Linked DNA regions of Homo sapiens: region 1 is linked to region 2. Evidence: fine-mapped expression QTL. A gene starts in region 2. The other region holds a variant in brackets. All regions are shown on one strand. Distances are from middle to middle. Region 1 overlaps ACP6 (acid phosphatase 6, lysophosphatidic). Region 2 holds the start of ACP6 (acid phosphatase 6, lysophosphatidic).

Region 1 (5,376 bases), 24 kb after region 2:
AGGCTCTGTCTCAAAAAAAAAAAATGTTGGAAGTAGCTCATGAGCCTCCATTGCCACTTTTGGAGCCTTGAATCCAAGGTTGGGACTACGGCTGTGGAATATTATGTGTCCTAGGCACTTGCTAAGTGCGTTCTGCAGGAAAACAGCTTCACCGTTGCCCAAGAACTCATCAGGTTCTCAGGCTCCAGCCTGATCTACTAAATCAGCATCTGCAGTTTAACAAGATCCCCAGGTGATTGATAGTCACCTGAATTTTGGAGAAGCACTGTTGTGGTATCACAGCTAGAAACTCATGATGGCGTAAGAGGAATAGGAGACAGTGAGTTGAAACAGGAACTTTGGGCCAAGATTTGTAATAGCAAATCTTGTGAATACCATTTCCTGTCCTTCACAGTACCTGCAATGACAGTACATTTTTTCTGGCTTTTGCCACCTTGCCACCTTCTGCCTTGGATCTTTAGAACACCACAGGATCCAATGCTAGTCTTCTAGGATGGGGGTCCATAAATAAAATCCTTGGTCTTTCCTAAGAGATGGATACTGGTGTCAGGCAGATGTAGATTAAAATGGCATTCTTATTACAGATTAAAGCCATTTGGAGAATGTGCTGAGGGCCAAATGGGCTTGTGAATATTATTTTGAAATAAACTTAATACCCCAAAACTTCAAGCTTCCCCAACAAGGAGCCCTACTAAACTCATCCCATGGCTGAGAGTAGGAAGGGCATTCATGTAGGCTGGCAGGACCCAAAGAGAGAAGAGAGGTAGGGTCTAAGCCACACACGCTCAGTTTCTTCTTTGAAACTCACCAGGGAGGAGTGAGTAGGTGGCAAGGAGGAGGCCAGGAGAATTTCTCTGGCGGGGACCCTCCTCATGAAGACACGGGGAGTGGGAACAAGGGTTCTTCCCACGATCTACTGCAAAGGACTTTTATACCAGGCTCAGCTGATTTCTAGATGTCACCTAGTTTCTGAGGCAAGTGTGTCTTACGTAAAGGAGGCAGGCCACATCCTGACCTTCAGAGTCCTGAGGCAGAGAATTGTGGAGAGCTGTTTCCTCTTGCAGAAAGCTGTATCTCTATGCGGCTCATGATGTGACCTTCATACCGCTCTTAATGACCCTGGGGATTTTTGACCACAAATGGCCACCGTTTGCTGTTGACCTGACCATGGAACTTTACCAGCACCTGGAATCTAAGGAGTGGTTTGTGCAGCTCTATTACCACGGGAAGGTAATACCCCTGAGGTGGGGTTGGGTGGTGGTGAGGCACCCTCCTGCAAAACCCACCTACCTGAGTTAGCACCAAGTCTCCCTCCTCAGGCCCAGTGGAGTCTCTCTTGGCACAGTCAGCTCTCTGAATCCTATAGGGCAACTCCTGGCTATGGCCCAGGGGTCAGGCAGAACTTGACAGATGGTGGCAGGATGGGGCTTGAGCCTTATCCCAGTTCTGTTACAGACTCCTAGGAACAGGGTCCCCCTCCTCTTCTCCTGAGCGTCCCTGTCAGGATGTCGCCTCCTGGCTGTGAGACCTGTTTTGGAGATTGTTGGTGGTATCTTTGGGAGGTGATGTGTGCTGCTGTTAGCACCCGTGGTGTTGGCTGCTTCATCAGGGCTGGGGTCCAGGGCAGAGGCCAGAGCACGCCCCAGGGATGAGCCTGTTGGTTCTCCCAGCTCGGGGATGTAACTCGACTCTTTCTTCCCAGTCAATTCAACACTTTTTGAGTGACTTTTACAAGCAGAGCATAGTGCTTTTATTCTGGAAGCTCACCGGGTAGTGGGGCCTTCCTGTCTGTAATATGTATGCACATGTATACCACATGGATCAGAGCCTCTCAGATCTCTGGGCTTAGCTGGAAATAGCAGAAGGACAGGTTCCTCGGCGGACCTGCTGAGTTATGTTTCTTCTGCAGGAGCAGGTGCCGAGAGGTTGCCCTGATGGGCTCTGCCCGCTGGACATGTTCTTGAATGCCATGTCAGTTTATACCTTAAGCCCAGAAAAATACCACGCACTCTGCTCTCAAACTCAGGTGATGGAAGTTGGAAATGAAGAGTAACTGATTTATAAAAGCAGGATGTGTTGATTTTAAAATAAAGTGCCTTTATACAATGCCTCCTGCTTTGTGTGTTTGGGAAGAGGAGAGAGCAAGGGGTAATGTACTTTAATATAATGTAAGGATATTTCCTTTCTGTGGGTTTACTAAGATTTCTTCCTGAACGGAAAAGGGGTATAATATTGAGACCAAAAGGATATTTCTCTATTTTGTGAGTTGGTTTCTAAGGTTAGAAGCATCTTTGTGTGACACGGGCTGGGGACATCATGACCCTGTAGAATTGTGTCGGTTTTGGACTTTAGTTCTTTTCTCCTATATTAATTTCACATGTATTGAGCTACCTACTAAGTAGTGATCATTATAAAGGTGAAAACACTCTGCCCTCAAGTTGTTGCAGTCCAGTGGGAGAGGCAGCCGAGTAAATCAGTGATACAGTGCTGTATGTTTTATGCTGTAATAGGTATTTGAGGGGCTATTTGGGTATAGAGAAGAAACTTCCTGCTCACATGGCAGGGGATGTGGGGAACAGTCAAGGAAGGCTTCTGAAAAAGTCCTGGCCTGATCTGAGTAGAGAAAGGTGGGTAGGAGTTAACCAGGAAAGCAAGGATGAAAGCGTGTTGCGTTTAGATAAAGGATAGGCTTCAAGGTCAGGGAACGTTGCTGGGTGGTGAGATGGAACCCTGATGTGGAGGCTCAGCAGGAAGAAGCAGGAAGGACACTGGGCCCC[T/C]GGTGGTTTTAGTTCCAGAAACAAATGTGGGCCCCAGGGCTCTGCAATGGTAAGGCTGGAACTACTCAACATAAGAGCTCCACCTTTAACTGTGCCCCCTAAGAGTACCTGATGATCCCCCTATCTCCTTGTCAATGTTGCTGTTCTTCTCCAGAATCTATTTCAACCCTTCTCTGATTTCAAACCACCAGTCCCTTTACCTCTCAGAGAAAACAGCAACCACAAAAGCCTCTCCACTTCCTACTATCTTAATATTGACAACTTCCAGATCAGGGAGCTGAGATATCTCAAGCTCAGGTTTCTCTTCTGAGCTTCAGACACTTTTATCCACTTGGATTTCACTGGCACAAAACTTTCCATGTTAGAATCAAACCCCCCTCCTCCCAGACCTGCTTCTCCCACACACTTCCCTATCTGAATGAAAGACACCTCCACTCTCCACCCAGTTGCCAAATCAGAAATCTGTCTTTGTTTTCTTTGTCTCACATTTTCCTATGTCTAATCAGTTAAGTTTTATCAATACTACCTGTTTATTTCTTTAATCTATTCACATATCTTTATCCTCAATCTTCAGCATCCCCTTCCCATCCTCAGTCTGCTGGTTACTGTATTTCCTATTTTACTAAGAATCTAAAAGAGATCAGAAGAAAACTTCCACATCCCCCAACACCCAACCACCAAATCTGCTAACCCAGTTGCATTGGTGCTTTTATAGCCTTCCTTCCTCCCTCTTACTAAGAATGAACCAACACTATTCCTATCAAAGCCCAACCCTCTAGCTTTACATTGACTCCTAGTGTCTTTTTTCTGGATTGTCAATTTTTTTCCTGACCAATTATTCTATTAGCAATACAAATATGCTGTAAAATCTCTTAAACTTTTTTCTCTGCATCTTTGAACTGCTGTTCTCTTTTCCTTCTCCCCTTCATAGCAGAACTCCTCAAAAGAGTTGCTACCTCTAATTCTTCCCTTCCAGTTCTCTCATGAACCAGCTACAATTAAGTATTCACCCCCACCACTCCATGGAAACTGCTCTTGTCAAAATCATCAATAGCCTTTGTGTGGTGAATCCAATAGCCAGTTTTCATTCTTCTTACTAAGCTTCTCATCAGTATTCCTAGACTATTTCCTTCACTGGCTTCGACAAATGCTTTCTTGGTTTTCCTCCAATTTCTCGACTTTGTTCCTGCTGAATCTACCTTTTTCTAATCCGTAAGTGTTGGGGTGTCCCAGGGCTTACTCCTTGGACCTTTTTTCCACCTTTTCCCCTACACTCACCCACTAGGTGATCTCAAGAATTTCCAGTTTGAGGCCGGGCGCGGTGGCTCACGCCTGTAATCCCAGCACTTTGGGAGGCCAAGGCAGGCAGATCACCTGAGGCCAGGAGTTCGAGACCAGCCTGGCCAACATGGCAAAACCCTGTCTCCACTAAACCTGCCTCTACTAAAAATACAAAAATTATTATATTTTTATAAAATTATTATAATTTTATAAAATTATTATATTTATGGAGTACAATGTGATGTAATCCCAGCTACTCGGAAGGCTGTATGTGTCTATTTATGGAGTACAATGTGCCTGTAATCCCAGCTACTTGGGAGGCTGAGGCAGGAGAATCACTTCAACCTAGGAGGCAGAGGTTGTGCTGAGCCAAGATCGTGCCATTGCACTCCAGCCTGGGCAACAAGAGAGAAATAACATCTCAAAAAAAAAAAAAGAATTTCCAGTTTTAAATATTTACACAATGTCTCCTAAATTTATACCTTCAACCTAGACCTTTCCCTGTGAATCCCAGTCTCATTTCCAACAGTCTAATCAATGTCTCTATTTGGATGTTTAAGATATACAATAGGTATCAAACTTCCCATTGTCCACAATAAACTCTCAATTTCCGTGCCTTTTCAAACTTACTCCTTCCACAGGCTTTCCCATCTAGGTAAATGACACCACCATTCACCCTGTTGCTTTGGCCAAGAACTTTAGAACTGCCCTTGACTCCCCTCTTTTTCTCATATCCTACCTCTACTACATCAGTAACTCCTGTTGTATCTCTCTTCAAACTATATCCAGAATTGACCATGTCCCAATACTTCCATTGCTACTGTCTTAGTCCCAGTGTCATCTTTTACCTGGATTATTGTAAAGGCCTCGTAACTAGTCTTCCTGTTTCTGCCCTTCCCTTCTCTGCCCATCTATTCTCAACACAGTGTTGCTTTTAAAACAAAGTAAGATCGTGCCACTCTTCTGCTCTAAATTCCCCATTGGTTTCTCATCTCAAACTAAGGGCCAGTCATAATGCCCTCACGGTCCTATGACATCTCACTGCACCCCAGCCATACTCGCCATCTTACCATTCTTCTTCTTTTTTGTAATAAAAACTTTTTACTTTCTTTTTAGTTGACAGATAATAATTGCGTATATTTATGGAGTACAATGTGATGTTTTGATATATGTATGCATGAGGGAATGATTAAATCAAGCTAATTAACATATTCATCACTTCATCTACTCATCACTTTCTTGTGGTGAAAATGTTTCAGATATACTCTTTAGTAGTTTTCAGGTGTACAGTCGCTGTGGTTTGAGTGCTTTTGTCTTC
Region 2 (5,376 bases):
GAAAAAAATGTGAATGTGGTTGTTTCTTATCTAATCTCATTATTAAAACTGAGTTTTTACATAATATTAAATGCAATCCTCTGAAGACAATTTGGCTGGGAAAGGGCTTATTTCCCGAGCCATCCCTGCCTGGTAGTTTAAAACCAGGGTCAAAATAACAGCTACTCAGTGTTCCCCTGCTTCCTGCAACCACCCTAACACCCCCACCCACACGGTCCTACCCTGGGTCAGGACTTCCAGTCTCTCTCTTTCTCTCTCTCTCTCTCTCTCTCTTTTTTTTTTTTTTTTTTTTTTTGAGATGGAATCTCACTTTGCCGCCCAGGCTGGAGGGCAGTGGTGCAATCTCGGCTCACTACAACCTCTGCCCCCAGGTTCAAGCGATTCTCCTGCCTCAGCCTCTCGAGTAGCTGGGATTACAGATGTGTGCCACCACACCCGGCTAATTTTTGTATTTTTGGTAGAGACAGCGTTTCACCATGTTGCCCAGGATGGTTTCAAACTCCTGACCTCAGGTGATCTGCCTGCTTTAGCCTCCCAAAGTGCTGGGATTACAGGCGTGAGCCACCGCGCCCGGCCCAGCCTCTTTTAAATTGCAGCTCACTGCCACTACTATCACACACAAAATACATCTGGACTCCCCATGGTTTGTCTCACATGTGTTGACAAACAGTGCTTTTAACAACCACATGAAATCAGCTATTTTCCACCCTCACTCTGGTTTCTTTTGGAGATCTGCTGCTAAGTTGTTCCCCACACTTCCCCACACTCCCCCTCCAACAGGACACATGAGCCCTGACAGGACCATTGCTGTATTAGTCCGTTTTCACACTGCTATAAAGATACTACAATTTATAAACAAAGGAGTAAATTTACTCACAGTTCTGCATGGCTGAGGACAGGGGGAGGCCTCAGGAAACTTATAATCATGGCAGAAGGGGAAGCAGGCACCTTTTTCACAAGTTGGCAGACCAGAGAGGAGAAAGAAGGAGGAATTTCCAAAAACTTATAAAACCATCAGATCTCCTGTGTGGAGAGAGAGATCCTTCTTTCTCTTCTTATAAAGCCATCAATCCTACTGGATTAGGACCTCACATTTATATCTTCACTTAACCAAAATTGCTACTGGAAAGGGGTCCTGATCCAGACTCCAAGAGAGAGTTCTTGGACCTCGGGCAAGAAAGAATTTGGGGCGAGTCCATAAAGTGAAAGCAAGTTTATTAGAGAAAAAGAGAAACAAAAGAATGGCTACTCCATAGACAGAGCAGGGGCATGGGCTGCTCAACTGAAAATACTTATGGTTATTTCTTAATTATATGCCAAACAAGGGGTGGATTATTCATGAATTTTCTGGGAAAGGAGTGGGATTTCCTGGAACTGAGGGTTCCTCCCCACTTTAGGCCATATAGGGTAACTGCTGGCCCCGACATTCGTAAATTGTCATAGTGCTGATGGGAGTGTCTTTTAGCATGCTAATGCATTATAATTAACGTAAAATGAGCAGTGAGTTTGACCATAGGTCACTTCCATCAACATCTTGCATTTGGTTGGTGTTGGCCAGCTTCTTTACCACTTCCTGTTTTATCAGCAGGGTCTTTTTGACTGGTTTCTTGTGATACCAGTCCTGCTGACCTCCCCCCTCATCCTGTGACTGAGAATGCCTAACCTCCTGGGAATGCAGCCCAGTAGGTCTCAGCCTCATTTTACCCAGCCGCTATTCAAGATGGAGTCACTATGGTTCAAATGCCTCTGACAGAATCACCTTCTAAAAGTCCTATGTCCAAATGCAGTCACTTAGTGGGTACGAATTTGGCGGGGGACACAACTGAGTCCATAGCAAACAGTATTCGATTTTTAATCACATCAGCACACACAATAAGACTCTGAAAAGTGAGTCCCTTGGCTGGGCTAGGGAGAAAATTGTGACAATATGTAGTGTTCCAAAATGACCCTCCTCCCTGCATCAGGGAGGGGAGCACTCAGAACCTTCCAGCTTGGTGAACAGAATTTGTTCTCAGGCCAGGAGCCATGCTCTGTAAGTATGTTGTCTTTACATCTGGCCCAGTTTGATCTTTGGAGATAGACACATAGTGGGTCCCAGATTGTGTCCTGTTGCAAAGATCTGGAAACACAGGCTTGGGATACCTGTATATCAACAGAAACCAGACTAGCAGGTGGTAAGGCTGGCATTGTTCTGTGTTCTTAGGTTTTTTTTTGTTTTTTTTTTGTAGACGGAGTCTTGCGCTGTTGCCCAAGCTGGAGTCGTGTGGCGCGATCTCGGCTCACTGCAAGCTCCGCCTCCCGGGTTCACGCCATTCTCCTGCCTCAGCCTCCTGAGTAGCTGGGACTACAGGTGCCCGCCACCACGCCTGGCTAATTTTTTTTTTTTTTTTTTTTTGTATTTTTAGTAGAGACGTGGTTTCACCGTGTTAGCCAGGATGGTCTCGATCTCCTGACCTCATGATCTACCCGCCTCGGCCTCCCAAAGTGCTGGGATTACAGGCGTGAGCCATGGCGCCTCTTAGGTTCTTAATCACTGGGACACCCACAGGCAAGGCCTGGCTTTTTCCACAAGAAGTATTCTGGATGGAAGTAAACACATCAGTGACCTGAAAGTTCTACATGATTACAATGACTTAAGCTTGAGAATTTTTTTAAAAACAGAGAAGGGAGTAGTAAATGACTAAATATAAAGCACCTAGTGCTGTGTTTCGCAAATGGCAATCACTCGGCAGGTGTCTCAGCTCCTCGCTGCAGCAACCAGGCTTCCAGGACTGGAAGGAAGTCTTCTACATTCAAAACTAGACTCAAACTACTCCCCTCCACCACCCAGTTCTACTCCTGCGCTCGCGATCCTCCTGCCTGGCAAACTCCATGGCCCGACAGATTCACTACCACTCCACTGCCGGACCAGGCACGTCCGTGGGCCATCCACGCCTGGAAAACGGCTGGCTGGGCCGGAGGGGCGAGGCCCGCAGGCGAGGGGGGCGGGTACAAGCCACTTCTTGGGAGCCGCGGTACGCGCAGCCTTGTGGGAGTTGTAGTTTCCGCAGCTCTGAGTCTCCAGGCGAGGTGTCACCACAGGACTCGTTTTCCCGTGCTCCTGTGCGCGGGTCCACTTGGGACGGGTCCCTGAGTAGGTGAGGAGGTGGGTAGGAGCTTGCTTATAGAAAAGTGGAATCGAGTAGTCCTTGCTGGTGGAGCCGCTGCCGCCAGGGAACTCAGGGCCGGCTCCTGTTCCTTCAAGAGTGCTGGAGGCCAAACTTGAAATACAAGTTTAATGTTCCTCGTCGGGCAAAAGATAAGGATCCGATCTCCCCCGGCCCGGTGTGCAGCAGGAGCGACCAACCCCGACCCGGGTTAAAACTCCCAGGGACTCTTCGCTGCTGCCACCTCTTGTTCTCTCCCCCGTTCCCACTCGGGGTCTCCCTCAGGGCCGGGAGGCACAGCGGTCCCTGCTTGCTGAAGGGCTGGATGTACGCATCCGCAGGTTCCCGCGGACTTGGGGGCGCCCGCTGAGCCCCGGCGCCCGCAGAAGACTTGTGTTTGCCTCCTGCAGCCTCAACCCGGAGGGCAGCGAGGGCCTACCACCATGATCACTGGTGTGTTCAGCATGCGCTTGTGGACCCCAGTGGGCGTCCTGACCTCGCTGGCGTACTGCCTGCACCAGCGGCGGGTGGCCCTGGCCGAGCTGCAGGAGGCCGATGGCCAGTGTCCGGTCGACCGCAGCCTGCTGAAGTTGAAAATGGTGCAGGTCGTGTTTCGACACGGGGCTCGGAGTCCTCTCAAGCCGCTCCCGCTGGAGGAGCAGGTGAGAGGTCGGCCCGGGCTGGGGCTGGTGGGGCGAGGACCGTGTGCCAGGCCAGGAGTCTCGCCCTGACACACATCTTCAGAGCTTTACTCGCGCGGAGCGGGGCTCGGGTTGGGTCCAGAAGAAGGGAAAACAGCAGTAGCCAGTGACTCCCCAGGCTCTTGAGCAAAGGACCTGCTGGGGTTAGGACAGCCCCGGAACTTCCAGTTTTGCCCTGATGGCGCAGCCATCAGTAAGCGCTGCTTAAGACGCATGGGAGTCGCCTGGGGATCCTGCTACGTTGCAGATTCTGATTCAGCAGGTGTGGAGTAGTGCCCCAGGTCAGCATTTCTATTAAGGGTCTAGGTGAACTTGAATACAAGGGTGCAGTGCACTTCTGTGTGACCATTTTGAAGGTGGTTTGTCAGAGCTGAAGGGCTGAAGGGACTTTAGTGATAGGAACCACTCTTAACTGAGATTACAGTGGATAAGAGGTCGTTGCCTTTGGAAACAAACTTTATAACTGCTTTTTCTCAGGGTTTGCTGGAGGCCATTTGAGATCTCCTGAAGTTTTTTTTTGTAACAAGTGTTGTATTCTAGGGTTCTCCTTTTCTATTTAAGGTTACTAAACCTATAGTGGGAGGGATCTGAGGTCGGAACAAATTTAAAATGGGCTAGTCTGTGGCAGTAATGTTTTAAAAATCTGTCTGGTTTTGTCAGGATAATTATGACTAAAGCACAAATAGTTTAAAAAAAAATGATTATCTTTCCTGGATGTGACTTTTTATAGCAGAAAGGCCTAGTGAAGAGGAACAGGCAACCTGAAATCCCCAAACTCCCAGGTATTACACCTGTGGAGTGCTTTTGTATCGTTGGTCTTCCAGGTTGATGTTGGAGGAGGTCGAAAAGATTGTCCAAAATTGATGTTAGGTATACTCTTCATAATAACAGTTGCTTTCTAGAAACCTTCAGGATTGTGTCTTTACATTGTACAACTGGAAACCCATTTTTCAAGGTTGGCCGCACATGAAATTAAACTTCTAAAGCATTTTCCACATAAATAAATACATTTGGAAGGCACTTAATTCTATTACCAGGTTTCTAGTTAGCCTTACTCTGGCTTTACCACTTGCTCTCTGGAACCGGGATTTCTTCTTTCATTTTGATTCTTTGATTTTTTTTTCAGTCTCTTACTTTGCCTTTTTATATTAGATCACTAAATTTTCCTTATGATTTTGTATACAGCCCATCTCTGATGCTCCCCTTCCCCCAATTCTTCTCTATTTATTCTTGGTACAGAAGGACTGGGGAATCACATGTAGGAATATATATTATATTCACGTAGAAGACAAAAAATTATCAGTGGTAATGGAGAGTAAAACTTTGAATGTGTAGGCCTAGACCTAGTATGTACCATATATATATATATATATATCCTGAAGGCACTAGGAAAAGATTTAGATTCTTTTAGGGCTTTATCCCTAAGGGAGAGTGGGTGTGTGATGGATATCTTCTGCCTTTATGGTTGAAAGGTCCGTTGTAGCTTAGGATACCAGCTTCATTCATCTTCAATCTGTGTAGCCACAAAA

Evidence for each region. PIP is the estimated chance that this variant, and not a neighbour inherited with it, causes the effect.
Region 1: its variant is the best candidate, but not a certain one, in a credible set for the expression of ACP6 in uterus (GTEx, PIP 0.87).

What each region holds. Positions count from the first base shown.
Region 1 is chr1:147,644,100-147,649,475 of GRCh38, reverse strand. It overlaps ACP6 (acid phosphatase 6, lysophosphatidic), which reads left to right. Exons shown (of 10, transcript NM_016361.5): 9 at 1,065-1,230; 10 at 1,910-5,376. The coding sequence ends at 2,053. Among named protein-coding and RNA genes, the nearest start is that of ACP6, 24 kb to the left of the region's middle. The variant T/C (reference allele first, on the strand shown) is at 2,778.
Region 2 is chr1:147,668,262-147,673,637 of GRCh38, reverse strand. ACP6 (acid phosphatase 6, lysophosphatidic) reads left to right here and starts at 3,114. Exons shown (of 10, transcript NM_016361.5): 1 at 3,114-3,808. The coding sequence starts at 3,590. RefSeq lists enhancers at 2,652-2,721, 3,162-3,411, 4,052-4,111, 3,323-4,266.